Regions from separate parts of the Homo sapiens genome. Here regions 2, 3, 4, 5 and 6 are each reported to be linked to region 1. The links are microRNA targets in miRTarBase. Many come from high-throughput screens and were not tested one by one. Region 1 holds a microRNA gene; each other region holds the end of a gene's coding sequence.

Region 1 (5,089 bases):
GCACTTTGGGAGACTCAAGCGAGAAGATCGCTTGAGCCCAGGAGTTGGAGGCTGCAGTGACCTATGGTAACGCGACTGCACTCCAGCCTGGGCGACACAGCAAGACCTTGTCTCTAAGGAAGAAAAAGGCTAAAATGAGTTAATTGATGTGACTAGCTTAGGGCAGGCCCAGGCACAAATACCAGAATCCTCAGCCTCACAATCTAGTCTTTGGGTTCCGTAGAAAAGCGCTGGCTTTGGCCTGAAACCCAGGTCTGAATCCCAGGCAGGCCCTCGGTCGCTGTGCGGCTGCTTCACTATGCCCCTCCTTTCCCTGTCTGTAAAATGGGGCATGCGTGCTCAAGAATGGGCCTGATCTTGACAGGCCTGGGCTGAGCCCTGACTTTTCTCCCTCAGGGCAGAGACACCTGCGGAAGCCACAGGGAAGCCACAGAGAGATGAAGCCGGCCCACAGAGGCAGCTGCCAGCCCTTGATGGCAGCTTGATGGGGCCGGAGAGTCCCCCAGCACAGGAAGAGGAAGCCCCTGTATCACCCCACAAGAAGCCAGCCCCCCAGAAGCGGAGGAGGGCCAAGAAGGCACGGCTGCTGGGCCCCACTGTGATGCTTGGTGGATGCGAGTTCAGCCGCCAGAGACTGCAGGCCTTTGGCCTCAACCCCAAACGGCTGCACTTCCGCCAGCTGGGCCGGCAGCGGAGGAAACAACAGGGGCCCAAGAACAGCTCCTGAGCACCAGGGAGCAGGCAGGGGCCTCAGGCTCCTCTCCTCAAATCAAGCCCTGGACAGGTCTCGCACCCACAAGTACTATCTGCTGCAGAGATCCTCTCATCTGTGGCCAGGCACGCCTGTAATCCCAGCACTTTGGGAGGCCGAGGTGAAAGGATCACTTGAGCCCAGGAATTGGAGACCAGCGTGGGCAACTTAGCGAGACTCCATCTCTACAAAATGTGGTGACACATGCCTGTAGTCCCAGCTACTCAGGAGGCTGGGGAAGGAAGATCACTTAAGGCCATGAGTTTGAGGCTACAGAGAGCTATGATTGCACCACTGCACTCCAGCCTGGGCAACAAAGCAAGACCCTGTCTCTTGAAAAAAAAAAAAAAATTAAAAAACACGTGTAGCTGTGGGTAAGGAAGTCGTCCCATTTTATGGATGTGGAAACTGAGGCTGACTTAAACTTCCCGTGACTTGGAGCTCTCACCTCGAGACACCTCCCAGACCCCACATCCCCTCAGAACGCTGCGCCCAGCCACACCCACGATCAAGTTACACAGCTTTATTGGCCCCCAGCAGCCACAGTTCCCCCAAGGGGGCTTTGGGACAGGGAGGGCCCGGGCGTCCAGTGCAAACTACAGTACGTGAGTCAGGCCCTGAGGGGGGTGCCCGGGGTCCTCCTTCCCTACCCTGCCAGGAGGGCCCCGCTGGTGGGAGACAGGTGTATGGGCTCTGTGGGCTCTGTCCCTGGCTGAATGGCCCCAGACTGGTTGCAGCTGGGCTTGAGGGGCTGACAACAGGAAGTACCATCATCACTGCCAGAGCTCAAGATCCCACACCCGACATGACATAAATAAAAAAATAAATAGTGTTGTATCTTTCCCCTCATCCCCTCCCTTTATAAAAACACAAAGTCCTCAGAGCTGGGGCGTTTGGCCCTGAGGAGCCGCCCTGTGCGAGGGAGCCGGAGTGTGGGCTGGGCGAGCTGGGAGCAGAGGTCGTCCAGGCTGTGGTCCTGAGCATGGCCCTCGGCCAGGGTGAACATGGGGTACCGCTCTGTGGCTGAGGAGGAGCTGAGGACCTGGCGGGAAGAGGGAGACAGGGTCAGCCACAAACAGTGCCAAGCCATATTCCTTAGCCCAGGTTTATTTAGTAGGTGCTTCTCAGGACCACCTCTCCAGGAGAGAGCAGCCAATCAGCACCTTCCATCCCCTGGCCACAGTGATTGGCTCAGCCATGAGCATGTGACCCAGCTCAGCCAAAGACTGACAGTCCTGGGATTTTTGCTGCAAAACCTGCGTTTCCCTTCCAGTGACCACAGGGTGGGTGCCCAGAATGGCTGGTGGCCATCTCTCGCCCCCATAAGGGTAGAGTCCTGGTCGGACAGCAGGGCCAAGAGACAGGGAGGGTTCCCACCACTTGAGCCCCTGGATACAGCTGCCTCCAAGGGATGATGCCTTAACAGTGGGCTTTGGCGTTCCCACCTTTTCAGGGGTGGACATTCTTCACATTTCCCAGGTTAGGACCCCTAGCCTGGAAGCAGCACCCCAGCTCTGCTGGACTCGAGGCCTCTGTTCCTCTTTCACCCCCAGCCCTGCCCAACCGCCCCCCTCACCCCACTCCAGCTTTCCTCTTGCTCACCCTGGTCAGCTCTGAGCAGAGTGTCTCAAACTCCTTCCTGTCTCCAGCATAGAAGCCCACGGTACAGCTTGGGTCCATCTTGGCAAAGGCCATCTTGCGGGGCGAGGTGCAGTGGAAGGACTGGGGCAGACAGACGAGGAAGGCTCAGAGGCTGGGCTGCCCACCCGCCATGGCCCCAACCACACACTGGGGCTCCCACTCACCTCCAGGGGGAAGTCGGCCTGGCTGACATCCACAGTGGGCTGGCAGTAGTGAGGGTCCAGGTACAGCAGGAAGTCATCTGCAGGGGGTGCAGGTGTGAGTGGGGGTGCGGTGGGGGGTGGGAGGAGTGAGGAGGGGGTGGGCCTACCTTGGTAGCCAATGAAGTACAGTGAGTGTCGCGGTTTCCCACCCATGATGCCCAGGCACAGCTCGCAACGCAGGAGTTCCTGCAGGGAGGAGGGTAGGCAGGTGCTGTCAGGCAGCCACTCAACAAACGCTTGGCAAACACCTCCTCTGTGAGAACCCAGCCTCTGGAGGGCAGCAGTGATCAAGACCACAAAACCCTTGCCCTCAGGAGCTGACATCCTAGTGTGAGAGACTAACAAGGAAGATGATTACATGAATTTTTTTTTTTTTTTTTTTTTTGAGACGGAGTCTCACTCTGTCACCCAGCCTGGAGTGCAGTGGCCCAATTGGCTCACCGCAACCTCCGCCTCCTAAGTTCAAGCGATTCTCCTGCCTCAGCTTCTCAAGTAGCTGGGATTACAGGCACCCGCCACCACACCCGGGTTAATTTTTTGTATTTTTAGTAAAAATGGGGTTTCACCATGTTAGCCAGGCTGGTCTGGAACTCCTCCTAACCTCAGGTGATCTGCCCGTCTCGGCCTCCTAAAGTGCTGGGATTACAGGCTGGAGTGCAGTAGCACGATCTTGGCTCACCGAAACCTCCATCTCCTGGGTTCAAGCAGTTCTCCTGCCTCAGCCTCCCGAGCAGCTGGGATTACAGGCGCCCGCCACCACGCCCAGCTAATTTTTGTATTTTTAGTAGAGACGAGGTTTCACCATGTTGGCCAGACTGGTCTTGGACTCCTGACCTCAGGTGATCCACCTGCCTCCCAAAGTGCTGGGATTACAGGCGTGGGCCACCACGCCCAGCCAATTACATGATTTATCTCATGTGTTAGAGGTGATAACTATATGGAAAAGAATAAAAGAGGGAAGGGAGCCTTGTGATTTTAAGTAAAGAGGTCAAACATTACAGCTCTTTTAGAATTTGTCTCAGGTTTTCTGGTTCTCACTGGAAAACCCCCCACGCAAAAAATATTTTAAAACAGGAGCCAAGCAGTGGCTCATGTCCATAATCTCAGTACTTTGGGAGGCCGAAGCGGGAGGATCACGAGGTCAGGAGATCGAGACCATCCTGATTAACACAATGAAACCCCATCTCCATTAAAAATACAAAAATTAGCCAGGAGTGGTGGCGGACGCCTGTAGTCCCAGCTACTCGGGAGGCTGAGGCAGGAGAATGGCATGAACCCAGGAGGTGGAGCTTGCAGTGAGCTGAGATCATGCCACTGCACTCCAGCCTGAGTGACAGAGCAAGACTCCGTCTCAAAAAAAAAAAAAAAAAAAAAGCCACATGCATCACTGCTGAAAGAGTGCTCCAAGCAGCAGGGGCAGCAAGCGCAAAGGCCCTGAGGTGGGAGTGTCTGAAATAGGTGAGGAGGCCCCTGTGGCTGCAGCAGAGTGTGGGAGGAGGATATGAGGTCAAGGTGGGGGATATCCCGACATCAAGAAGGTGGTGTGGACAAATAGTGCCGGGCTCTGTGGGTCACTGGGAAAACTGGCTTTTATTCGGATGCAAATACATAGGGGACTTTCCAGCCTCAGGGTCTCTGTCTTGCTGTTCCTTTTGCCTGGAGCACTTCTCCTCTGGCTCCTCATTTGCCTGGTGGCTGCAGAGGCGCTTTTCTAGGCTCTGCTGCTACCCTCATCTGCCCTTCATTGGGTTACTGTTTTTTTAAAGTTGTGTAGAGGCTGGGTGCAGTGGCTCATGCCTGTAATCCCAACGCTTTGGGAGACCGAGGTGGGTGGATCACCTGAGGTCGGGAGTTCAAGACCAGCCTGGCCAACATGGGAAAACCCCATCTCTGCTAAAAATACAAAAATTAGCCGGGCGTGGTGGCATACACCTGTAATCCCAGCTACTTGGGTGGCTGAGGCAGGAAATTTGCTTGAACCTGGGAAGCGGAGGTTGCAGTGAGCCAAGACGGTGTCACTGCACTCCAGCGTGGGCAAGAGAGTGAGACTCGAATATTTTCAAAAAAAATTGTGTAGAGATGGGGGTCTCACTATGTTGCCCAGACTGGTCTCAAATGATCCTCCTGCCTCGGCCTCCCAAAGTGCTGGGATTATAGGCCTGAGCCACTGTGCCTGGCTTCATTCCAAACAGTGATGCTACTTTGGTTACATAGCCACTGCTGAGCATCCTCCCATCAGAACGTCTGCTCCCAGCAGGCACACTCAGAACTCCTGCCTATTCTGTTCCCCTCTGAATCCCCAGCAGTCGGGACAGTGGGGAGCACACATAGCAGGTGCTGCATAGTATAAAAAAAGAAGGGATGGGCCGGGCGTGGTGGCTCACACCTGTAATCCCAGCACTTTGGGAGGCTGAGGTGGGTGGATCACCTGAGGTCAGGAGTTTGAGAACCAGCCTGGCCAACATGGCGAAACCCCGTCTCTACTAAAAATACA
Region 2 (5,089 bases), not on the chromosome of region 1:
TTAGACTGCACCCGCTGGGAGAAAGCAGTGGATGCAGCTCTGTCCATGCACACTCAGCTTTGCTTACTGAGGGTGTGAGAAATACAGATGGAAGTTTTGGAAGAGCAGTGCAAGACGGAAAGGGCATACTGCCTAATCTTGGTTGGTTTGCAGATGGTGGGGTTTGTGGTAGTGCCGGATCAACTCAACCCAAGGTGAGGAAAAGCCAGGGGGTTGGGAAAATCTCAGTGCTGAAGTCCTGGGAGAGGAGTACACACCAAAGCCATCAGGGCAAGGAATCTCTCCAGAGAGCCGCGAAAGCACCAGGCACTCAGAAGCCACTCAAGAAATATTAGTTTCCTCCCTATTTTACAAGGCTTGGTAGCACTGATAGTTTTGTGTCAGGTTCCAAGGAGACACCCACTATTTGTGTGCCTAAGAAGTAGCTCAGCCAGACCCAGCCTTGAGGCAGTGGGGCAACTAACAGCTTACCGAAGCCCTGGGGCAGCTTGATATGGGAATAATCAAGACCAAAATGTTGTTCTATAAAGCTGAGATTGGGGAGAGTGAGCCAGGGTACTTCTGAGAAAGAGGTCAGGGAACAGGATTATCATTAGCATTCTGCCCACAGAGTTGGCACTTACCCAGTAACATCGGGATTCCTAGAAAAGGCCCAAGCACAGACCCTCTAGCAGGTGTCCTAGTCACGGACCCAACCTAGTGGCGACATTAGGGGGTTTGCCTGTTCAAGGCCAGTGGGGGAAGAGGGAGGGAGGTGGCACACCAACAGGTGTGGAGCGCTGGCTAGGGCCAGGAGAGAATTCCAATGTATGGAAAGGCTAGAGTGTAAGTGGGAAGGTGAGGGGGGTCCTGTGCTGATCCTGCATAGATGGGACACTGACACAGGAGACAGCAGCAAACTCCTTCGAGTCACAGATGAAGCTCGGGGGCCCCCTGTCTTCTCCAAGCCAGTCCAGGAGATTGGCAGGATGGGAAGGCAGAGCACAGTCAGAAACTATGATCATTTCCTAATAAGAGATTATAGCAAGGTTTTAAATTTTGTTTTTAAAGAGGAAAAAAAATATAACATCATGGTTACACAGAGGCTCTGGAGATTCCCTGGGTTCACAATCCTACTTCTGCCATTTACTAGCTGTGCGATCTTGAACAAATTTCTGAGCTTCTCTGAGCCTGTTTCCTCATCTCTAAAACAGAGATAATGACAATGTTCTACTTACAGGGTTGTTTTGGGCATGCATGCAAACAAAACAGATTTTATGATCGAGTCATAGTTCTGGAAAGGAAGAAAAACCCAGATTTGCGCACACAAGTGTTAAGTAAATGTGAGCCCTCACTATTGTTCATACAACATGGCAGTGACACACATACATTAGACAAGAGATTATTACACACTGAGCCTCCACCCAGTCTCCCTATTATCCTCCCATGGGCTCCTAATTGATGACTAAACAGTGCATTGCTGGGTGGCTTCCAGTAGTTTCTTTCTTCACTTTGCTGCAACTTTGAACTGAAGGTGATCCACATGGTACATGACATTCTTCCTGTTTTCTTCACAAGACAAGGATGATGTTTAAATGGGCATTTGTTTGCGGAATGACTTGGAGAGTTCCTCTCTTTCAGCCATCTTTTCTCAAAGACTAAGGCTGTGGACAGGATGGGCATGGTAACAAGCCAACAAGCCTCATACTCTATTCTTTTTTTTTATTTTTTGAGACGGAGTCTCACTCTGTCACCCAGGCTGGAGTGCAGTGGTGCAATCTCAGCTCACTGCAACCTCTGTCTCCCCGTTAAAGTGATTCTCCTGCCTCAGCCTCATGAGTAGCTGGGACTACAGGCATGAATCACCATGCCCGGCTAATTTTTGTATTTTTAGTAGAGACAGGGTTTCAGTATGTTGGCCAGGCTAGTCTTGAACTCCTGACCTCAAATGATCCACCTAACTCAGCCTCCCAAAGTGCTGGGATTACAGGAATGAACTACCGCCCCTGCCCCCACACTCTATTCTGAATGCATGTATGGGCACATGTGCATGCCTGTCCCCTTTCACTCAGTGATAAGGAAGAAGGGGAACCAGAAATTTCTGTTTGAGAAATTAGTAACAGAAATGGGTGTGGGGAGCTGGTTACCTGGGAGATCCTTGTTCATTTGTAACATCAGGAACTGCTTCTTTTCCTCCTTCTCTCTTCTAGAAGACTGTCAAGGAGCCCGAGTGAGGGAAGCAGACCAACCATGGTCTTGGAGAAAAGAAAATAGGGTTTCCATCCCTTCTGGAGGGAGAAGGAATAGCAGAGATGAACATGAATGAAGAAGGAAACAAATGGAAATAAACAAAATGAAGGTAAATACCCTATATGTTAAAAGAAAAAAATACCCTATATGTTAAAAGAAAAAAGAAAAGAGAAGGAAGAGACACAAGGAAAGAAAGAGAGAAGCAAAGAGGTTAGGAATAGGGTAAGAGAAAAGGAAAAACAGCAACCAGCAGAGGAATCACTCCCCTGTTAAGGTTAACCAGGAGGAGAGGCTTATATAAGGCATGAATGTGAGTGGGTATGAGAGTCCAGCTTTCCCACTGCACTTGCTCTGGTTATGGAGCAGACTGCCATCTTCTGGTGCCATTTACTATTCAAGTTGCTTTGGTGTTTTTTTGTTTTTGTTTTTTTTTTTTTTTTTTTTTTACAACCAAGTGGATTGATTGAAATGCTTTGATTCTTCATTTGAAATGTTTCTATTCCATATACCCATTATCTTTTATCCTCACAAAAGCCCTTAACATTGTTTCCTTTAATCTTTGGGGTTCTTAAGCATCATTTCCACCAACAGAGATGTACCTACCCACAGTTGTCTCAGAGCATGGAGGCTGAAAGTCTGTGAGGACAAGAGTGAAATGGAGCAGAGGATAGGCTGTGGTTTGGAAGCGGCTCTGGAATACGCTGGGGGTGGCGGTGGGGCTGAAGGTTGGTTATGGGATGCTTCCTGGGCTCCGGAACATCTGTGCCAAAAACTGGAGGACCCATCCTCGGCTCCAGCCAGACGCTTGGGGTGCTATGTATTCTGAACCATAGCACTAGGTTGGAAAATTTGGCTCCTAATCTATACTCTGCCATGTACAGATCACAAAATATCATACAAGGAGCCTTAAAAGGTCATCTAACCTAAATCCAGTTTCCCAAGGAGAACACTGGGGCACAAAGAAGTGAGAGGTAACTCGCCCAAAGTTATATAGCTAGTCAGGGACTTCCTCTTCGGAGACAAAGGAAATCAGAATAGTGATTCTTCTGATTCACCGTCCCTCGACAAACAGTCCACAAAGTGCTTGGAGGTTATTAAAAGGCACCCCAGAAAAGTAAGGCTGGCATTTTCCTGGAAGCCCCTGAGTGTACAACCCCTGAGGCTCAGTATTTGGCTATAAAAACAGGTCTGGAGTTGCTTTGGCCTCCGTTTTAATCCCTAAAGCTGCCTGGAGGCTGGAGCTCTGATAGCTACCTGTCATCACTCCCCAGCCAGTCCGCGGACACCGCAGCCAGGAACTGTCAGAGGTGACAAGGGAATCCCGTCATAATGCCAAGGACCAAGGAGCAGTGGCCAGGTTCCTGGGATTAAGCAAGGCAATTATGGCTGAGTTAAAGCTAGGATGGGTAGGACAGGGGGATCTGAGGTGGAAAAGGCCGGTAAGAAGAGGGAATGCGCCAGCAATGTAAATGCCTTCGACTGGGTGGGCTACTTCACATCATACCTCCTCCATCTCCAAAAGGTTCTTAACCTTCTTCAACCGCCTAGGCCTGATGGACCTCCTCCCTTTCTCCCAGAGCCCACTCACTGAAGGGAAGGCCACCATCATCCCCATTCTTTTCCTTTTTTTATAATCCCTCCGGTGCCGTTTCGGGTCTCCTTCCTCCTATATTCTGAGTTCCTTCCACTCACATCCAACCAGCTTTTAACACCCGGATCTCCCGGAGCTTCTTTGGTTCCGCTCACTCCCCCCGCCCCCACGCCCCCACGCCCCCACGCCCCTGATTTCCCCACCCTTTTCGCCCTCCCCGGCTTGACTCCCTTGGACCGCTCCCGCCAATCCTGGTCTCTCCTACTCCTCCCCGCCACATCGGGTCGCCCCGCCCCCGGGTGCCTTTGGTGTTTTCCGCCGTCGGCCGCAGGCGCCTCGTCTCAGATAAAGTGGATCCAGCCCTGCGGCTCCGGAGCTCCGCCACTGCCCGGGTGCTCGGGCCCACGTAGAGCATAGTCACGGCCGCCGTTGTTGTCCCAGAACTCGTGACCTGTCACACGGTAGCGCAAGGCGAAGAGCAGGGCGCCCCCAATCGGCGGCGCGGGCAGGCGGAAGGCGAAGCGGTCGGCGCGCGGCGGGGGCGGGGCCGGACCGGCGTAGGCGGCTGGCGCCTCGCGTTGGCTCCGCCAGCCGTCGGCGCTCCAGCGCACGCTCACGCGCTTCTCGTAGGCCAGGTCCACCACGCGCGCGCTCCCGGCCACGCCCAGCGGGCCCGCCTCGGCGCGTTCCAGGCAGATGCGCTGCGTCAGCAAGCGGGCGGCGAAGCCGGGCTCGCTGGCCGGCTCCAGGGCGGCGCGCGCCTCCTGGGGGAAAGAAGAAGCGGGAGGAGGGAGCCCAGGGCGGAGAGAGGGGAGAGACAGGGGGCGGTGTCAGAGCAAGGCACTGGACCAATCAGAGGCCGACCCCGGCGTCCAGGCCGGCAGAGTGCGGCCCAGCTGCCAGGGTGGCCTAGAGCCACTCGCAGATGGGGTCCCCAAAAGGGATGGGCAGGCGCAAGCCCAGGGATGGGATGGAGATGGGTGCTCTTTGGCAAATCCACTCCCACAAGCCCGCTGCGGCCGACTGGAGGAGGTCCCCAGGAGGGGAGGTGCCCCCGCCGCCTACCTGGAGGCCGCGGGCGCGGGGCTGGCAGGGCGCGAAGTGGCGGAGGGCGTCCCTCTGCAATTGGATCTGCACGTGGCGGGGCACCCGGGGCAGCTCACCGGGACGGAAGCGGCGCACGACAGCCAGCTCCAACCCCAGTGCGTCGGCGAAACGCACTCTCTTGCGGGTGTCTGGGCTACGGCTGCGGGGCGCCCGGGCCCCGCC
Region 3 (5,089 bases), not on the chromosome of region 1:
TATAACCCCTGAGGACCACAGAACGGATTTAACGTGCATGTGCAACATGGCTCATTGTTTTTGTTGTTGCTGTTTTGTTTCCGCAGGTATGCCATTGGTCTTGCTTACAAATCAGCCCCGAAGCATGAATGGATTGGGAAGAACTCTGCTTCCTGGGCGCTCTGCCGCTGCAACAATAACTGGGTGGTGAGACACAATAGCAAGGAAATCCCCATTGAGCCTGCCCCCCACCTCCGGCGCGTGGGCATCCTGCTGGACTATGATAACGGCTCTATCGCCTTTTATGATGCTTTGAACTCCATCCACCTCTACACCTTCGACGTCGCATTTGCGCAGCCTGTTTGCCCCACCTTCACCGTGTGGAACAAGTGTCTGACGATTATCACTGGGCTCCCTATCCCAGACCATTTGGACTGCACAGAGCAGCTGCCGTGAGCGTCTGGCCACATGGAGCTGCTTTCTGGGGAACAGTAAGGTTCAGGCCACTATTTAGGGGACTGAGAAAGCACAGGCTTCATGAGTGTAATGAAATCTCACCAGAAGTGTCCCGAAATCGGCTCAGATAGGGCTCAAAACAAGAGATTCCTCTCCTTTTACTGTGTCTTGTATTAAGTACGGGCTTTAATAATTTCTTTAATTTTTTTGTATTTAGAGGAAAATCTATAGATTATTTATAAGAGAAACATAATCAGGATTACAACTTTTAGGAATTACTTGGTTTTGCACATTAAGAGGCCCATAAGTTTATCAGCTATTTACAACCTTCATTTCATCACAATCTGTGGGCTTACAAAAAAACAAAAACTTTTGTAGTTTTGTATGTTACTCATCTTCTTACCTGATATCCCATGATGATCCCATGGTAGGTCTTCTCACCTCGATGGTGCATAACAGGATGTGTTTGAACCTAGTAGGGGAGGAAACAGGCTTTCTTACTCTGGTTTAATTTGAAGTGTTTTAATTGTGATGTCAAAAAGTTGTATCAGATCAACTAAAATGGAGAGCAAGACAGAGAATGAAAAGAGTTGATTTTGGACCTCGGACCTTGCCGTGGCTAAATCTTTACCTTCTCATAGCTGATGGGATAATGTTGGAAAGAAAGGTTCTGAATCCTTTGGCCACATTTTGCCCTGCTTCTCTCAGGGTTAAGGGTTCTGGAAGAACATTAAGAATGAGATTGCAATTGAAAATAGTCATTTTGAATCCTATTGATTATTCAAAAATTCAGGCTGATTTGTCTTTTATCAGAGGTAGGATTCTGTTTTATAGTATAGAATCTACTTTATCCTTCCTTTTAATAGTTCCTTTAGACCTGTGAAATTTCTTCACTACATTTAATAGTTCTCCTATTTCCCGCTCCCCCATATCAATTTTCCTTTTGTCTCCGGGGCTGAGTAAATAAACATGTTCTGTCACAAATAGCAGCACCACTTTGGATTGATTTTGCTCTCCAGGACATCAGCACATGGCCCTGATCAGCACTACCACATCCAAACATAAGTCACTGAAAAACACTTAATATTTATGAGTTGGTAATGACAAGGGACATTGTATAAAGTACTATTTGCTAGATTCATGCCTCAAAAGTTATTATAAACAGACCTTTATTAAACACATCTTGAAAGATGTAGAAGTCCCTCTATAGTCTAGTATAGTTTACAATAGAGTTGTAAGACCAAAAAAAAAAAAAAAAAATTCAAACTCGTTATTCAGGAACCTGCTTATAAAATGTCAGCTGGGATTCTTTGCATGCCAATCTGATGCGTTGGAATGGTCCATGAATTAAGGCTTTCTTGAGCAGTTCTTGGCCCAGAACTCTGGCATTGGTTCTAGTTTGATGAAGGGCATGACCTCTATAAATGGTTTCAATTGCTAAAATATTTACCTGGGATACTGGGTCAGCCATTTTGACTGAGCAGACTAGTGGATTTAGACATTGTTTTTAGTTATTTTGTTTTTAACCAAATCAACCAACTGCCTCCCTGAAATAAGTCAATGAACTCATTGTTTCAGCATCACGTGGCCAAAGGTCATGTGATTGCAAATCTGGATTTCAAGGGAGGCCAAGCCAGCTTCCTGGGTCCTTCCATCCTCTTCCCTAGCAGACACTCTCCTTTTTCTTAACAGATAGATTCTATATATTTACTATATTATTTATACCCAGATGAATATTTTGATAGATACCTAAGACAATTTCACATCTAAAAGATGGACGCCTCAATGGAAAAAAAACAATCTTTCTCTGGAAACCTTATAGGTTTTTCTTTTTATTACAATATAAAAGCAATGTGTGTTTGCCTTCTCTGAGTAAACTGAAAGGGTTGTCTCAGTAATTTTTACATACATTTTGGGTAACTGGATAATGGATATTTTAATGCACTTTGTACACTAACAGGTTCTAAATAAAAGGGTCTAAAACTCAGCTTCTGAGTTTTTAAAATCACGGTCTCCAGGTACCAATAAATGCTACAGTTTGCCTTATGATGTTAACATAAAACACTTAGTAGAAGGACAATATTTCCATGAAAATAATGTTTTTCAATATTAAGAAGTTACTACTCAAATTTTCACAGTAAGCCATTTAGGGTATGTTTGGCTATTTTTATAAGGACATGAGAGATTATGTCATAATTTTGTTGTGGAAGTCTCACTCTTGGCTAACTTAAAAGCATTGTGGATAGTAGCAGTTACTAGTTCCAGGTTGTCATATTTACAGGAAAATATGTATATGGTGAAAGGCCACCGTGTTTAATTACTATAATGATGTAGAAAAGATTCCCGTGTGAATTTTTTTTTTGAAAGTCTAAAAAATGTATGCTGTAAAAATTTGCTGCAGTGTAATTTTGCATTCTCTTTAAACTGATTGAGGTCACAGTATTTTATTATTTGGGGTCCTCACCACAGGAAACACTGCGATACAGGGGCAAAAGAGATGGCAGTGCCAATTAAATTAATACAACAAAATCAATGCAGCACCAACCAAGACTGCCAGGTCTGGTGTCATGGGTATGCCCAGAGCCCAGGAGTTCAGAAGGGCCCTAAGCCTGATTTAATGCTCTGCTGTTGATGTCTTGAAATTCTTAACAATTTTTGAACAAGGGGCCTGCGTTTTCACTTCGCACTGGGCCTTGCAAATTACATAGCGAGTGCTCATAAAAGAACTCAGAAACGTGGTACCTCTCTTCCTGGTGGATACAAATAAAGAAATCTGGATCCAAAGTTGAAAGTTGCTGGCGATATCATTCAAGTAGGACTCTAAATAGTGGATTAAGATGAGGGTGGGCCTGGGTGAAGATTCTTTCCAGCTTTAAAAGAAAGTGACTTCAAAAACTGACTGCAAATATTGACGATGGTTTCTGCTGGAGGAAAAGAAACAGCTTGAATACAGACAGGCTTTTTTATTACGGTACTGATATATTGACCTTAAACTTGCTGAGGAACTGAACTAACGTCCTCCAGTGACCGTGGAATTCCATCTCAGCTCCAGGAACATGCAGATACCTGCAAAGAGACACGCATATATGCTGGCATACATGTGCATTTGGTGTTGGGAAGTTGACCATCTGGTCTATCTTAATAAAATGGTAAAAAGCACACCAAGACAATGATGGGGGCAGGAGGATGTTTTTGAAAACAGCGCTTCTCAACCAGTGCTCGATTTTGCCCCCCAGGAGACATTTGGCAATGCAATGGCAACTTTTGGTTGTCGCAGCCGGGGAAGGGAAGCTACCAGCATCTAGTGCGTAGAGGTCATGGACGCCGTTAAACATCCTACAGTGCAAGCGCAGCCCCCGACCACGAAGAGTTGTCTTGCTCAAATATCAACAGTGCTGCAGTGTAGAAACTTGATCGTTGGTTTTCTTTTAATGCAAAACTCTCATAAAAACCTTTCACTTTTCCTGTCATTGATTATATGCTTGATACACCCAAAAAGAAAAGGGGAGGGGCACCAATTCACCTACACTCCAGTGGCTCCATCACCTTTAAAAATATTTATAAAATAGTTCCAAAAATCTGATATCTGAAAAGCAATCCAAGCCTGTGTAAATGGGAATCACTGATAAGTATCATCATCTGTATCAGCTTGGCTTGGACATGAAAAATTGATTCTCTTTATGTCACTCCTTGCACCTGGACAAATTCAATCCCCGGTACTTAAGTCACACTGCCAAGCCCTCGGCCCTGACTATTGTCTTGATTGCTGTTCCTTTCTGGTTCAAAATAAAATCATTTTTGTGGCACCAAGACCCTCTGTCTCTGCCTGTCTCTGTTGCCTTTTCATCATTTTGTGTTTTTGCAGTTATGATGTTGACAAATATTTATTCAACATCTACCATTTATTCATACTACTTTATGACATATAATTCATTTTCTTTTACTGTCTCTCATCCACTATTTGCCTTTCCCTATTCAAAATACAATTCTTTTGCAACACTCAAAATATTCTCCAGGGAATTTTTAAAACACAATAAAAGAAAGCCTATATAGAAGTGGAAACCCAGAACAAGGTTTGCTTGATTTCAAGTCTTATAGATGGGGTGAGGAAGAGAAGAGCAATGATTATTTGAACAGAGCACTGGGAGTCTTTACAGTGTGATCTAGGAGAATCCTAGCAGTTGGTCCATACATATATCCTCAACCCCATCCCATGGACCTGACTTTCTCTCACTAGAGATGCAAGCCTTTGGTCTTGGTCAGTGCTATGCAAAGTGTGGTCCAGGAATCTGCAGCATCTGCATCACCTGCGAGCTTGTTAGAACTGTCAGTTCTCCTGCCTCCCCCGAGACCTGCTGATCAGAATCTTTGGGGTGGGACTAGCAGTCACCCCAGGGGATTTTGATACTAGTGGAAGTGTGTGAAGCACTGCCCTGGGGAGCTGCTTCCAGTCTCATAGCCCATATAGAAAGGCACTTACCACCTGAGATGTGTTTTCAAGGCAATGTGCTTTTAGAGAGAGCAGGATGTAATGCAGTGATTCTTAACATGACTGAGCATTTAAACCATCTTTTCTGCAAATGAGGATTCCTGGATCCCATCCTGAAAGATGAGGGATGAGAAAATCAAGAGCACAAGAGCATGGCTCAGCAGC
Region 4 (5,089 bases), not on the chromosome of region 1:
GTAAGCTAACACCAAAAGAACAACTGTACTAAATTTTAACACTATTCTTTAATAGTTCCATTTTCCTGAGTTTGTGTTTGTTCTTTGGCATTGGTTTAGGATATAATCCATTTTTTCAGAAGGCGTTGCTTGCTGGGGCCAATTTGGGCACCATGCTAAATCTGGAAAGAGCATAAAGCTTCAAGAGGGCGAAGCAAAGTCTCTTGTATGTAATTATTTTTCTCCAAGATGGAAAGAGCAACAGGTGCACACTCCAGTGTAGAAAGACATCTATTAATTGGCTGTATCCGAATTACATACTGACTAGAAATGCTCGTTTTTAACTGCACCTGTTTGGGGGTGTCAGAACAAGGAATTCTTACAGAAAATGTCCTTAGCCTGGCTCCGTGTACCATCAATGACGATGATTGTAGAAGGATAAACAGGAGAATCTAATATAAATTCTTCCAGATTAGCAGCTTCTTATATTAGCCCCTGGATATAACATTAATGTACCAAACTTCCGGCAAACAGTTGAAAGTTCAGGATCTCTTTCTTCACTGAAGCGACGACCAGTCTTCACTTTGCGCTTGTCCTGGGGGAGGCATGCTGCTGGTAGAGGAACTGTCCGCAACATTTTGTCTTCCTCTGCTGGATGCTGAATTATGCACAAGTAGGTAGAGATATGCAAAGGGTGCGCTGGGAGAAATGGACAAAAACACACTTTCTGAGGCCGGCTTGCAGCGGCTGCACGCAGGCCTCAGCTCCTCGGCTCCACCTGCAGCTCCCACAGCCCGCCCGCACTAGCGTCGTCCGCCTCTGTTCCCAGGGCAGCCGTCGCCAGCACTGCGCCGCCCTCCCGCTGCTCCTTGTAGTTTGGCGTCTGAGACCTTGAGGCCCCAGGCGGTCGCGCGACGGGGTCGCGCCTCTTTCTGCGACTCCATGGCGGACACTCTGGTCAGGCCTTCGATATAATATTTCAATATAGACTTAAGGAATAGATTGTATGTGTACATATAGATATGGATATAACATAAGTAACTAAATTAAAACAAATGTCCATAATTTGGCCCAATTAGAAATCCAGAATGTATATACCAAAGAATTTATATTACAAAAAGATAAAAGGACATTGATTAGATTTTTTGTCTCTACAACATAAGGTCTAAATTAACTTTAGCATTTGCTAAAATATACCAGCTGACATACTTCATGGACTCAATCAATACTGGGGCTCCAATTATACTTGGAGTGGGCCGTGGTGGCTTACACCTGTAATCCAAGCACTTTGGGAAGCCGAGGCGAGTGGATCACCTGAGGTCAGGAGTTCAAAACCAGCCTGGCCAACATGGTGAAACCCTGTCTCTACTAAAAATACAAAAATTAGCCAGGCATGGTGGCAGGTGCCTGTAATCCCAGCTACTCGGGAGGCTGAGTCAGGAGAATCACTTGAACCCGGGAAGCGGAGGTTGCCGTGAGCCAAGATAGCATCATTGCACTCCAGCCCGGGCAACAAGAGCGAAACTCCTTCTCAAAAAAATACATATTATACTTGGGGTTCTCATTAAATTTAAATATTGTATGCCCTCTAATCTTAAAAAGGTAACTAAAGTTAAAAAATATTTTGGATAACTATCCCTCACTTTACTGCTTTGGTTGAATTTCCCATAGTTTTGTACCCATTGCTTTAAAGTATCTCTTATTGGACACAGACTCTCTGACACAACAAATAATAAACTAAAGTTAAAATTTTGGCACTTAAAAAATGGCTTGATAAAATGGGACCCTATAAATCCCTCTTTAAAATAGTTAATATGGCACAATTTAAGTTAGAATAGGCCCTTCAAGGATTAAGACTTGTTATATAGAACCTCATTATGAAAGGGGATAATTATCCCCACTGCTTCTCATTAAACAGCTCAATTTTGCCTATTCGAGCCCTTTGGGAGGCCAAGATGGGAGGACTGCTTAACCCCAGGAGTTGAGACCGGCCTGAGCAACGTAGTGATACCCTATCTCTACAAAAATTTTAAAAATTAGCCAGGTGAGTTGGTGGTGTCTGTAGTCCTAGCTACTCAGGAGGCTTAGGTGAGAGAATCTTTTGAGCCCATGTGTTCAGTGATGCAGTAAGCTATGATCACACCACTGCAATCCAGCCCAGCCAACAGAGCAAGACCTTGTCCCTAAAAAAAAAAATAAAATAATAAAAAGTAATGGAGATTATTGCCTTCTCCTGGAGGTAGTTGTTTCCTATTAGTCAACTCCTTGACCCACTCGCTCCCCAGTGCCCTCCCCTACCACTCCCTGAAGCTTCCCCCCGCCGACCTCTTGTCTTACATCTCTGACCATGACCACCCCTTCCCCTTGGTTATACACACATACACGAATGTACACATACATTATTAATGTATCAGCCACACTGTTCAACAATATGACTGCCAGACCTGCCACTTTGATATATATATAATTCAGACTTTTAATCCACTTTACAACTCCACCAAGATTATACTAAAGACCCCCCAAAATTTCAGATCTACTTTCTTGACTAATGATGCACACATGAAAAACTTACTGATGGGCCAGATTGCAAGGACTCCTCGTATATCCACTTGTGTTCTTCCTTCTTACTCTCATAGTAAACATTTTCTAGGCTGTTTAGGTGAGCTTATGCCTCACTCTCTAAATACGTCCACTATTACTACCCCAGGTTTCTTGCAATGATGCCAAATAGGCACGGGGCCAATGACTCTTATTGTGTTTTCTTATATTCTGTATTTGTCTATTTGGCATCCAGGCACCTGGAGGCTTCATCAAAGTTCACATTTTCTTTTGCTGATGTTTCAATTTATCCTACAAAACTATGTTCCATGTAGATCTGGCCCATCTTGAGGCTGCTGTTTCTGCATTCATCCTCCCATGGTCACATTTCTTGGCCAACAGAACCACAGAAACTGGTCTGCCATGAGTTAACGTTTAGTCCAAATCATTTTTCCACTTTGGCTCTGCTTCAAATGGGGCTGGGCTGGTGATACTGAAGACAATCAATGCACCTATGAATTCCAGACAATGGGCTCTTGTCATTTTCCCAATCTTTCCTCATCGCAATGTTCCACAGCTGCAGTTGTGCCAAGGCCTCTGAGTCCCAGTGGAGCTCCTTCAGTGCACAGTTCACACAATGGTGAACTGGCTTGGAGATGCCAAGAGGAGTTCTGGTGCACACAGTGTGTGATGATGATGGCCTTGCCTGTGCCCAGGTCACCCATACCGGCAGCTGGTACAGGCTGACACACTGTGCTGGCCACAGTTCAGGGCTGGAGAGAGACTCCAGGAGTGCAAGTATGCTCTCGTTTTAGGTTCTTCATTTTGATTCATCTCTTCATTGGCTGGATTTCATTGTAACATAGTTTTCAAGAAGGTAGAAGAGAACTACGTTCCGTTCCCTATATCCTTTGATAAGAATGTCTGCCTATTTCCTTTATAGTCAAACATCATCTCGTTTGGCAAAATATGTGTTAGTAAAACTTTTCTCAGAATACTGAATGCATTGATCGACTTCCTCTGGCATTGGACACAGTGGTGGAGAAGGCTGAGGCCCTGATGGGTAATTTAGGCTCTATTCTCTGTTCCAAGATCCCACTGAAGGTCTTAGGCATGAATTCAGAACACCCAGCCAAGGGTGTATCCCACTCTGCTGAGCTTCATCTTGGTCCCTTAGCTCATCTTAGATGAGTGGGAAATGCCAGACCCTGGTGCTCCTTCCTCTTGTTGATGAAAACTCTCGTTGTCTAAAAGAGTTTCTACTTATACCTTGGCTGCTTTCCTTCAAATCTTAGTTAGAGAGGATTTTCCATATTTTGTCATCTCACGCTTCTTTATTCAGAACTGCTTGTAGAAAAATAAAGTAACCATTCTTGTGAGTTCTTTAAAGGTGCTAGCTGACCAGTTAGGAAATCCACAACCCTTCCAAGTAAATAGTGTGAAAGTAGCTCAAGAAGATCCAGAGAATTCCTGGAGTTTTGTTTTGAGAAAATGAGTTTTGCCTTCTTATTCATTCCCACTGTGGAAATTCTGAGTTTCATCAAGGATAATCTTTTGTAAGTTATAATTGTTTTCTAGGTATATGCTGGGAGATTTTCACTGTTGTCATTAAGAATAAAAGTGTTGCAATTTTCCCAGTTCAAGCATGGAAGAAAATTTATTCAGGAACTACAGACAGAGTAAATAATACTGTGCACAGACGAGTTAACAAATTAATTTTCCTAATATCCCTCAAACAATATCTGTGAAGATTATTTAGGGAGAAGTGAAAATAGACAAAACCCAATTATCCAACATCACATTAAGTTGCTTAACTTGCAAAGTTTTCAAAGAAATATTTTCACAGAATTAGAGAATGTTATCAAATATATAATGAAAAATATCTCAGTAGCCCAGTCCATTTTCCATCAGGTGAGCCTTCGACAAGATTTAAACATCTTTTTATCATTCTTCTGAAAGCAATCTATACCGATTATCTGGTATAGATTTTCTGCAAAGGAAAACTGGTCTCTCAGAGACTTGAGTCTCTTTAAGGCTTTAAAAAGGGCTTTCAGCAAGTATTTCCTTCTTGTAAAATAGTAGGATTCAGGGTAAATTACTTGCGACCTTAAATCATACTGGCAGCTTGTCATGCCTTCAGGGCTCAAGTAGAAGATCTTTGTCATGACACACACTTTTTTAGTGTAACCACCAATTTTTGCCAGCTTCTGCTTTAAGGTTAGGGCAGTTTGTGTAGAATAGCCTTTAAACTCCTCATCCTGTACCATGTGGAAGGTGTATAGGACTGGAGGACTGTCCTGGGAAATCAGAAGAGCATCACAGAGGACTTTGTGGTTCTCTTGCAAGCCCAGATCCACAGACCAGCTCCTAGAGAAGATCAGTGAGCCCTTTCTGACAGAGTCCATTTCTTCACATATTAATTGCTTAAGTCCTTCATGTTGTAAGAACAGTTTTCTGCAAAGGTTTTCTGGAGTATACGTTATCCTTCCTGATAGCCCTGAATAAGGAAATAATAATAATAAATTATAAAACACTAGGAAGTTCCCATTTAAGCCATGGCAAAGTAGCTTGT
Region 5 (5,000 bases), not on the chromosome of region 1:
GATATGCATCCAATATTTTTAGCCCATGGTCCTGCCTTCAGAAAGAATTTCTCAAAAGAAGCCATGAACTCCACAGATTTGTACCCACTACTATGCCACCTCCTCAATATCACCGCCATGCCACACAATGGATCATTCTGGAATGTCCAGGATCTGCTCAATTCAGCAATGCCAAGGGTGGTCCCTTATACACAGAGTACTATACTCCTCCCTGGTAGTGTTAAACCAGCAGAATATGACCAAGAGGGGTCATACCCTTATTTCATAGGGGTCTCTCTTGGCAGCATTATAGTGATTGTATTTTTTGTAATTTTCATTAAGCATTTAATTCACAGTCAAATACCTGCCTTACAAGATATGCATGCTGAAATAGCTCAACCATTATTACAAGCCTAATGTTACTTTGAAGTGGATTTGCATATTGAAGTGGAGATTCCATAATTATGTCAGTGTTTAAAGGTTTCAAATTCTGGGAAACCAGTTCCAAACATTTGCAGAAACCATTAAGCAGTTACATATTTAGGTATACACACACACACACACACACATACACACACACGGACCAAAATACTTACACCTGCAAAGGAATAAAGATGTGAGAGTATGTCTCCATTGTTCACTGTAGCATAGGGATAGATAAGATCCTGCTTTATTTGGACTTGGCGCAGATAATGTATATATTTAGCAACTTTGCACTATGTAAAGTACCTTATGTATTGCACTTTAAATTTCTCTCCTGATGGGTACTTTAATTTGAAATGCACTTTATGCACAGTTATGTCTTATAACTTGATTGAAAATGACAACTTTTTGCACCCATGTCACAGAATACTTGTTACGCATTGTTCAAACTGAAGGAAATTTCTAATAATCCCGAATAATGAACGTAGAAATCTATCTCCATAAATTGAGAGAAGAAGAAGGTGATAAGTGTTGAAAATTAAATGTGATAACCTTTGAACCTTGAATTTTGGAGATGTATTCCCAACAGCAGAATGCAACTGTGGGCATTTCTTGTCTTATTTCTTTCCAGAGAACGTGGTTTTCATTTATTTTTCCCTCAAAAGAGAGTCAAATACTGACAGATTCGTTCTAAATATATTGTTTCTGTCATAAAATTATTGTGATTTCCTGATGAGTCATATTACTGTGATTTTCATAATAATGAAGACACCATGAATATACTTTTTTTCTATATAGTTCAGCAATGGCCTGAATAGAAGCAACCAGGCACCATCTCAGCAATGTTTTCTCTTGTTTGTAATTATTTGCTCCTTTGAAAATTAAATCACTATTAATTACATTAAAAATCAAATTGGATAAAACAATGTTTTCTTTCTGGTAGCGCATAATAACAGAGCACAAGCATCTTTTAGATTTGAGCATTTGAAGATTCAAAGTTGCGAAAGAGCACAAACCATATTAGGTAAAATATTGGCCACTCGATCCTTGAAAAGAACTGTGTGGAGCCTGGAAAAAAAAATTAGGACCACATGTGAGATGTTTACAAGACACCCAGAACAGTGGTAAAGTGTGCATACTAGAAAAAGCAGCAAAATAACTCTTTGTGGTAACAGGTATCAAAACACGGGAGCCGAGATGATATAGCTCTGTTTCAAGAAATATGTGAATACCCACCTACCAGGTGCTCAGTGGAATCAAAGATGAATCCAAGTTCACAAATAGACTTCTACTTCCAAGGTAGTACTTTTGACCTGCCTGGTCATCTCAGTCTTTTCCATTCCAACAACCTAAGGCTGTGCTTTAGATTTCTAAGTAATCAAGAAGTTTGGGAGAGGCATAGTATTACATGTGGCTTCTTAGAGGAAAGAGGAAGCCCTGAAAAGAAAGACTTTCCTTGAAGAAAATAGCATTTTACAGACACATGGATAGTACTGTGATTTCATGTATATATATGTACCAATTGGCTAATGAGTAGGTAAAATTGTATTACTATTCCAGAAAGAAAGGACAAATGGGATGTGAAGAACTAAAGTGACATAGTTAAAAATTTAACCAAATTTAAGTGCTTCCTAAAATTTGGTGAATGTCTTATTTTTTAAAATGATAATACCAATAAGGAATGTTGGCACATAATTCCCATTTCATTATAAAACCTCTTAATAGAATAGAATCAAATAATTGGAAATGGCCTATAGATTAAAAAGCTGAGAAAGTATATGGTAGGTAGCAAACTCCCCAGAAGTATGAACTCTGGATTAGACATCTCAGAATACATGAGCACTCATGTTGGCTTGCTTTGTAGCTATGAACTTACCCTGTATTATTGAAATGTCAGCATAATGACTGGAAGGTGAAATTGGTCCATTTTAGAGCATTACTATTATGCTATCTGTCCATTTAAATTAATAATTGCATTAAATTCATTTTAGAAGGTGCTATTACATTAGTAGTAAGAAAGTAAATTCATATATAAATATTTGATTATCAGATGGTTTACTTACAGATACTTATTTTCCTGTAAAATAGGAGAGTTTACCTGAAGAAAAATAAAACTTTTAACTTTTCTGGGAAAATCACATCACTTATCATCATTGACATCTTTTTGTTGTTGTTTTGTCTTACCTGCATGTCTTCATGGTCAAGCTTTGTATGCAGTGAACTCAAATTAGTACATGGAAATAAAAGACTAGCTAATCTTACTAATTGTAAGAATTTTAGAAAGGTCAGAGGAATGGAGCTTCTCTCTGTGCCCCCATCTTTTCTCAACATCCTCCTACATGAGCCATTTTGTAAAGTTTATTAATTGTTAGGATTTTTTAAAATTCAGTTTGTATTTTACAATTTCTTCTCCATCACCTGCAGTTTAAGTTTAAATTGCTTTTCAAAATGCCCTGTGATCTTGTAAGTATCCTATTATTAGTCTTAGTTTCTTACAAGAACCTCTTATTTCTAGAAAATCTAATGAAAGACCCCAGCTCTTCTAGTTCTCACATTTTTTTTTTCTGTTTTTCGTTAGCTGAAAAACATACTTGATAATCATAGAGTTGGGAAAGCTCTAAGGGATCATTCAACCCTTGATTTAACAAAAGCTCTTGCAAAGCTGTGAAATTTGCATGACATATTAGTGCCAGAGCTGGAGGCAGGACCCAGGTTCCATGACTGAGTTTATACTCAAAGTCAAGCTGCAGTCTAAGTTGGTTTACTTCCGGTTCTTCCTAAGGTAGCCCTTTGAGATCCTACCCCTAGCAGGAGGTGGTTAACCGATGTTCCCACCCTTGGCAGGCTCTCTGGTCCAACTTTTAACAGTCAGCTACACAAGGCTTATGGCTTTCTTTCAGACTGGCCAATGCCCAAGGGCAATGCCCCAGGACAAAATAGTCCTGAATGCTAGACTCTTTCAGGATTTCAGTCTTCTCTGAATGTCACCCTGGTAATTCCTCATAACCTTGTGGGCAATTTGATTCTTTTTAAAAAGACGTTTTAAAATGCATTTTGACTTCCAATCAGGACAGGATAGCATGGTCCTGCTTTTCCTTGTTCCTCCACACTAAGCATAATTATAGAGCCTGGAAATGGTGCAAGAGACTCTGAAGGGTGGTAATAAGGCTGAGAGCTGATTAGGGAACCTGGGCTGGAAAAACAGCACAGCGGCAGGGCTTCACGTGTTTCTCACCTAACAGAAGGAGGCCACACAGAGCCTGCATTTCTTAACCCCCACCTACCAAGACAGCAGCCCAGGGAGGTTTATTCCTCCCCTGGATCAAAGAAGAATCTCTGGTAACATCAGGGCAGCCCATGTCATCAGCAAGGGGAATTGCCATAACCCTCCAACTAGGAATATTGATTGGGAGTCCCATTAAAGAGCAGCCAAGAGGAGCATTCTCCTTCCCACCACTGAAACACTCTTCCACTGAGTCATAGAGGTGGACAAACAAAATCTGCAAAAGAGACCAAGCTACAGCAGACAGTCTGGGGAACCTCTTTGTTCCCATGCCCTGAGACTCTCCTCCTCTACCCAGAGACTTTGCAATGTGCAAGGCGCACCAATAAAGGAATCCCACTACACCATTTCCCTACCAAGAGATACCTGGCAGCTGGCCTGGGGAAAACCCTTCTGCTTTCCTCAGGCAGGACCAGCAGAGACAAGTGGGAATTCCAGCAGCACCACACAATCCAAGCAGACCATAATCCAATAGCACTCCAAAGGCTGTGAAAATTAAGCTGCCATTGGAATCACAGCCCACAAAAGTAGGACAAGATCTACATGCTAAACCTAAACTGTGTGACTTTCTGCTAAAATAAAAAATGTAAAGGGAACTCATCATCTTATTACATAATATATAAGATATCCAGGATACAACTGAAAATTACCTGTTATACCTAAAACCCAGAAAATCACAACTACAATGAGAAAAAAAAAATTGACACCAGCACCAAAGTGATTCATATGTTGGGATCATACAAGAAGAATTGTAAAACAGTTGTCATAAAAATACTTCAATGATCAACACAAATCCTCTTTAAAATGAAAGGTAAAAAATCTCAGCAAAGAAATAAAAGCTATTTTTTAAATGGAAATTATAAAACTGAAAATATAGTGGCATTTAAAAAAACTACATAGGCTCAATAGTACAATGGAATTGGTACAGGATAGAATCAGTGAACTTAAGTACAGAACACTAGAATTCACAAAACATTAACAAGTCTCAGTGATCTGTGGGACAATAAGAAAAAAATCCAACTTCCATATCACCAGGGTTGTAAAAGGGGAGGCTGAAAGACTACTTGACAAAATAATGACTAAAAACTTCTCCAACTTGACTAGACACAAATCTACAGATCCAAGAAGCTGAGTGAATGCCCAAACAGAATAAACCCAAATAAATCCACACCTAGGTACATTGTAGGTAAACTTGTTAAAAAGGGCCCCCCACTCAACAACTTAAAAGAAAAATCTTGAAAGTAGCCAAAGAGAAGCAATGCATTACTTATAGAACACCAAGTCTGATGACAGCAGATTCTTACCTGAAATCATG
Region 6 (5,089 bases), not on the chromosome of region 1:
GAAGAAAGGCACCCAGGTCTAAAGTCTATATTCTTAAACAGTATGCCACAGTGCCTTTCATAATGAAATGAAGCTAAGATACTAGAAGATCAGCCAGGCGCGGTGGCTCACACCTGTAATCCCAGCACTTTGGGAGGCCAAGATGGGCAGATCACTTGAGGTCAGAAGTTCGAGACCACCCTGGCCAACATGGTGAAATCCCATCTCTACTAAAAAATACAAAAATTAGCTAGGTGTGGTGGTGCATGCCTGTAGTCCCAGCCACTCGTGTTACTGAAGCATGAGAATTGCTTGAACCCAGGAGGCAGAGGTTACAGTGAAACTTCCACTCCAGCCTGGGTGGGAAAAAAAAAATACCAGAAGATCCTAAAATGCCTACTGAATCATCTAAAAAATACTAAACTGTGCTCAAATGTAACATTAATATCCAAGTGTGCTTTATTGGATTCAAATGCTAGAAAAATTATTCATCCAAATCCAATACTTTCCAGTTGATCAATTCCCCATCCCCCATCCACTCTGTGTTTTCCTCATAAGACCTTCTGTGTATTTTCATGTCACTTTCACACAAGTATGTGTGTTCCATATGCTTCAGGGTCATTCCAGATAGAAAATAAGAAATTAGGCAGAAGGAAAAAGACTGAATTTTTTTTTTTTTTTTTTTTTTTGAGACACGTTCTCACTCTGCTGCCTTGGCTGGAGTGCAGTGGCATGATCACAGCTCAATGCAGCGTCAAACTACTAGGCTCAAGGGATCCTCCCATCTCAGCCTCCTGAGTAGCTGGGACTACAGGCACACAGCACCATGTTCAGCTAATTTTTTAATTTTTTGTGGAGACCGGGTCTCCCTATATTGCCCAGGCTGGTCCCAAACTCCTGGGCCCAAGCGAGTCTCCCACCTCAGCCTCCGAAAGCACTGAGATTTATAGGCATAAGCCATCACCCCCAGCCTGACAATTTTTTTTAGGAGAACAAAAACAAAGTGAGTTCTACTTGCTACTTTAAAGCACCACATGTGAATATTCAATGATGTTTCATTGCAAATTGGAAACTAGATCCCATTTGTCAATTTTGGCTTTTGTTGCCATCGCTTTTGGTGTTTTAGACATGAAGTCCTTGCCCATGCCTATGTCCTGAATGGTGTTGCCTAGGTTTTCTTCTAGGGTTTTTATGGTTTTTAGGTCTAACATTTAAGTCTGTAATCCATCTTGAATTAATTTTTGTGTAAGGTGTAAGGAAGGGATCCAGTTTCAGCTTTCTACATATGGCTAGCCAGTTTTCCCAGCACCATTTGTTAAATAGGGAATCCTTTCCCCATTGTTCGTTTTTGTCAGGTTTGTCAAAGATCAGATAGTTGCAGATGTGTGGTATTATTTCTGAGGGCTCTGTTCCATTGGTCTATATCTCTGTTTTGGTACCAGTACCATGCTGTTTTGGTTACTGTAGCCTTGTAGTATAGTTTGAAGTCAGGTAGCGTGATGCCTCCAGCTTTGTTCTTTTGGCTTAGGATTGACTTGGCAATGCGGGCTCTTTTTTGGTTCCATATGAACTTTGAAGTAGTTTTTTCCAATTCTGTGAAGAAAGTCATTGGTAGCTTGATGGGGATGGCATTGAATCTATAAATTACCTTGGGCAGTATGGCCATTTTCACGATATTGATTCTTCCTATCCATGAGCATGGAATGTTCTTCCATTTGTTTGTGTCCTCTTTTATTTCGTTGAGCAGTGGTTTGTAGTTCTCCTTGAAGAGGTCCTTCACATCCCTTGTAAGGTGGATTCCTATGTATTTTATTCTCTTTGAAGCAATTGCGAATGGGAGTTCATTCACGATTTGGCTCTCTGTTTGTCTGTTATTGGTGTATAAGAATGCTTGTGATTTTTGCACATTGATTTTGTATCCTGAGACTTTGCTGAAGTTGCTTATCAGCTTAAGGAGATTTTGGGCTGAGACGGTGGGGTTTTCTAGATATACAATCATGTCATCTGCAAACAGGGACAATTTGACTTCCTCTTTTCCTAACTGAATATGCTTTATTTCTTTCTCCTGCCTGATTGCCCTGGCCAGAACTTCCAACACTATGTTGAATAGGAGTGGGGAGAGAGGGCATCCCTGTCTTGTGCCAGTTTTCAAAGGGAATGCTTCCAGTTTTTGCCCATTCAGTATGATATTGGCTGTGGGTTTGTCATAAATAGCTCTTATTATTTTGAGATACGTCCCATCAATACCTAATTTATTGACAGTTTTTAGCGTGAAGGGCTGTTGAATTTTGTCGAAGGCCTTTTCTGCATCTATGGAGATAATCATGTGGTTTTTGTCTCTGGTTCTGTTTATATGCTGGATTACGTTTATTGATTTGCGTATGTTGAACCAGCCTTGCATCCCAGGGATGAAGCCCACTTGATCATGGTGGATAAGCTTTTTGATGTGCTGCTGGATTCAGTTTGCCAGTATTTTATTGAGGATTTTTGCATCGATGTTCATCAGGGATATTGGTCTAAAATTCTCTTTTTTGGTTGTGTCTCTACCAGGCTTTGGTATCAGGATGATGCTGGCCTCATAAAATGAGTTAGGGAGGATACCCTCTTTTTCTATTGATTGGAATAGTTTCAGAAGGAATGGTTAAACTAAAGAGCTTCTGCACAGCAAAAGAAACTACCATCAGAGTGAACAGGCAACCTACAGAATGGGAGAAAATTTTTGCAACCTACTTATCTGACAAAGGGCTAATATCCAGAATCTACAAGGAACTCAAACAAATTTACAAGAAAAAAACAACCCCATCAAAAAGTGGGCAAAGGATATGAACAGACACTTCTCAAAAGAAGACATTTATGCAGCCAACAGGCACATGAAAAAATGTGCATCATCACTGGCCATCAGAGAAATGCAAATCAAAACCACAATGAGATATCATCTCACACCAGTTAGAATGAGGATCATTAAAAAGTCAGGAAACAACAGGTGCTGGGGAGGATGTGGAGAAATAGGAACACTTTTACACTGTTGGTGGGACTGTAAACTAGTTCAACCATTGTGGAAGACAGTGTGGCAATTCCTCAGGGATCTAGAACTAGAAATACCATTTGACCCAGCCATCCCATTACTAGGTATATACCCAAAGGAATATAAATCATGCTGCTATAAAGACACATGCACACGTATGTTTATTGTGGCACTACTCACAATAGCAAAGACTTGGAACCAACCCAAATGTCCAACAATGATAGACTGGATTAAGAAAATGTGGCACAAATGCACCATGGAATACTATGCAGCCATAAAAAATAATGAGTTCATGTCCTTTGTAGGGACATGGGTGAAGCTGGAAACCATCATTCTCAGCAAACTATCACAAGGACAAAAAACCAAACACCGCATGTTCTCACTCATAGGTGAGAATTGAAAAATGAGAACACTTGGACACAGGAAGGGGAACATCACACACGGGGGCCTGTTGTGGGGTGGGGGTATGGGGGAGGGATAGCATTAGGAGATATACCTAATGTAAATGATGAGTTACTGGATGCAGCACACCAACATGGCCCATGTATACATATGTAACAAACCTGCACGTTGTGCACATGTACCCTAGAACTTAAAGTACAATAAAAAATATATATATTTAAAAAAAAGAAAATTGGAAACTAGGGAGGTACTAAAAATGAAGTCTATTATTTTTCTTAACCAAATGAAATGTTTCAGTTTATCATTTTTAAGAGAATTTCTCTCTTGCCTTCTTTTGGTCCCTCCTTGGGATCTCAAAGATGCATATTTAAGATGTCTTTTGAAAACAATGCAGCTGAAGAAATTTCCTCTTCTTTTAGTGCAATTTTACAAAAATTAAAATGAATAGCACAAACGACTCAACTCCAAATGCATTTTCATCTACTTACAGTGCTGTCGTTTGTGACACAAGGAACAAGAGTATGTCAGGGACTCAGAAGATCTGTCAGAACTGGGTACTAACCCACAGCTGTGGGCAGTGGCCCATCCACCAGTGGGCATTCAAATATCTGCCCTGAACTATACATAGTGAAAGGTCCAGAGACCTTCATGCCCTTTGGATGCAAGACACAGAGTACAGATTCAATCATGAACTGACTGTCATTTAGATGGAAGAGGTCTTCTCAAACCGGCTGGCCTTTCCCTCAGGAGAAGCTGAATTTCCTTAGATGTATTTTCTTGACACTTCAGTTTACAAAGACGCTTCACTTCATACTCCCTTTCGAGTTTGATAGCTGAAAAAGAAAATACACAAAACAATCTGACATACATTTTTCATCAGGCATAACTAAGTCAAAACTGAATATCATACAGCAAAATCCATATGCCTGAATAATAAACAAGATGACAGAGCTACAAAGATAGGAGGTATGGGTGTAAATACACAGATTTAAACATTTCTCTGATAAGCAAATGGCACACTGAATTTATAACTTATTAAAGCAGAACTTAAGGAACTTACATTCTGCAGAAGGGAGCAGTCCATCTTTAATGGTGGTACATTTTGTGAGCTGCACAGAACCACCAAATGAAATTTCTTCCAAGAAAGGCAACTTGATATTGGCTAGGTTTGTGGACCAGGTCTTTGCAAGCAATGCAATATCCCAAGGTTCCTGTCTGGGGCAAAAATTCATTAATCCATTCAATAAATATTGATTAAGCACCTACTATGTGAGATGTAGAAGACATTAATTCTCAGTTCCATTTGCCACTAGACATTTTGGTTTATGGGTGGAGGGGGAGATGTTCAGAATTTTCCAGAGTTGTAGTTCCAGACAGGAGAGGGAGATTTATATTAACTAATATAGAGATAATACTGAACAATGACCAGAAATTACACCAGGAACTTTGATTCAGCCTCCATGAAGTCAATCCATTCTTTCCATGTAAGAGGATGTAGATAAGAACTGTAAGCTCCAGAGTCTTTTATAGCTCATAAAAATGTGGTCATATTGAAGAAGGAAAGAAGGGCATAATCATACATTGAGCAGGGTGCTTGGCACAGACTAAGGTTTTGAGTGTGCAATCTGGGAATGGGGATGAAATTCCAAACTACAAATTCAAAATAACCACTATGAACCTTTA

Evidence for each region. The annotated mature microRNA hsa-miR-1238-3p reads CUUCCUCGUCUGUCUGCCCC and lies in region 1 at 2,476-2,495, opposite strand. An mRNA with a match to its seed (bases 2 to 7 or 8) in the 3' UTR can be bound and repressed. Matches are read on the target gene's strand: a 7mer-m8 pairs with bases 2 to 8, a 7mer-A1 pairs with bases 2 to 7 and ends in A, and an 8mer does both.
Region 2: miRTarBase lists PPP1R3E as a target of hsa-miR-1238-3p. Seed matches in the 3' UTR shown: 7mer-A1 at 2,169-2,175, 7mer-A1 at 1,174-1,180 and 7mer-A1 at 336-342.
Region 3: the mRNA of MID1 is a reported target of hsa-miR-1238-3p. Seed matches in the 3' UTR shown: 7mer-A1 at 652-658, 7mer-A1 at 917-923 and 7mer-A1 at 3,363-3,369.
Region 4: the mRNA of SLFN12 is a reported target of hsa-miR-1238-3p. The part of its 3' UTR that is shown has no 7-base or 8-base seed match.
Region 5: the mRNA of ENPP5 is a reported target of hsa-miR-1238-3p. Seed matches in the 3' UTR shown: 7mer-A1 at 1,824-1,830.
Region 6: the mRNA of C4orf36 is a reported target of hsa-miR-1238-3p. The part of its 3' UTR that is shown has no 7-base or 8-base seed match.

Annotation. Positions count from the first base shown.
Region 1 is chr19:10,549,589-10,554,677 of GRCh38, reverse strand. MIR1238 (microRNA 1238) reads right to left here and starts at 2,556; the gene lies at 2,474-2,556. It overlaps ATG4D (autophagy related 4D cysteine peptidase), which reads right to left. Exons shown (of 10, transcript NM_032885.6): 7 at 2,703-2,781; 8 at 2,557-2,633; 9 at 2,354-2,473; 10 at 1,260-1,793. The coding sequence ends at 1,611. KRI1 (KRI1 homolog) reads left to right here. Exons shown (of 19, transcript NM_023008.5): 19 at 397-1,593. The coding sequence ends at 727. It also overlaps the pseudogene RNU7-140P. RefSeq lists enhancers at 249-328, 359-408, 429-598.
Region 2 is chr14:23,297,275-23,302,363 of GRCh38, forward strand. It overlaps PPP1R3E (protein phosphatase 1 regulatory subunit 3E), which reads right to left. Exons shown (of 5, transcript NM_001276318.2): 1 at 4,886-5,089; 2 at 4,024-4,584; 3 at 3,484-3,590; 4 at 2,127-2,267; 5 at 1-1,643. The coding sequence ends at 4,162. Among named protein-coding and RNA genes, the nearest start is that of PPP1R3E, 3.0 kb to the right of the region's middle. RefSeq lists an enhancer at 4,032-4,221 and silencers at 4,282-4,711, 4,722-4,781, 4,862-5,089.
Region 3 is chrX:10,444,714-10,449,802 of GRCh38, reverse strand. MID1 (midline 1) reads left to right here. Exons shown (of 10, transcript NM_000381.4): 10 at 87-4,247. The coding sequence ends at 435. Among named protein-coding and RNA genes, the nearest start is that of MID1, 170 kb to the left of the region's middle. RefSeq lists an enhancer at 1-864.
Region 4 is chr17:35,406,914-35,412,002 of GRCh38, forward strand. It overlaps SLFN12 (schlafen family member 12), which reads right to left. Exons shown (of 4, transcript NM_018042.5): 4 at 4,009-5,014. The coding sequence ends at 4,425. It also overlaps the pseudogene LOC729839. Among named protein-coding and RNA genes, the nearest start is that of SLFN12, 23 kb to the right of the region's middle. RefSeq lists a silencer at 1,138-1,351.
Region 5 is chr6:46,156,722-46,161,721 of GRCh38, reverse strand. It overlaps ENPP5 (ectonucleotide pyrophosphatase/phosphodiesterase family member 5), which reads left to right. Exons shown (of 5, transcript NM_001290072.2): 5 at 1-2,537. The coding sequence ends at 396. Among named protein-coding and RNA genes, the nearest start is that of ENPP5, 12 kb to the left of the region's middle.
Region 6 is chr4:86,883,655-86,888,743 of GRCh38, forward strand. It overlaps C4orf36 (chromosome 4 open reading frame 36), which reads right to left. Exons shown (of 5, transcript NM_144645.4): 3 at 4,467-4,621; 4 at 4,104-4,239. The coding sequence ends at 4,106. Among named protein-coding and RNA genes, the nearest start is that of C4orf36, 6.2 kb to the right of the region's middle.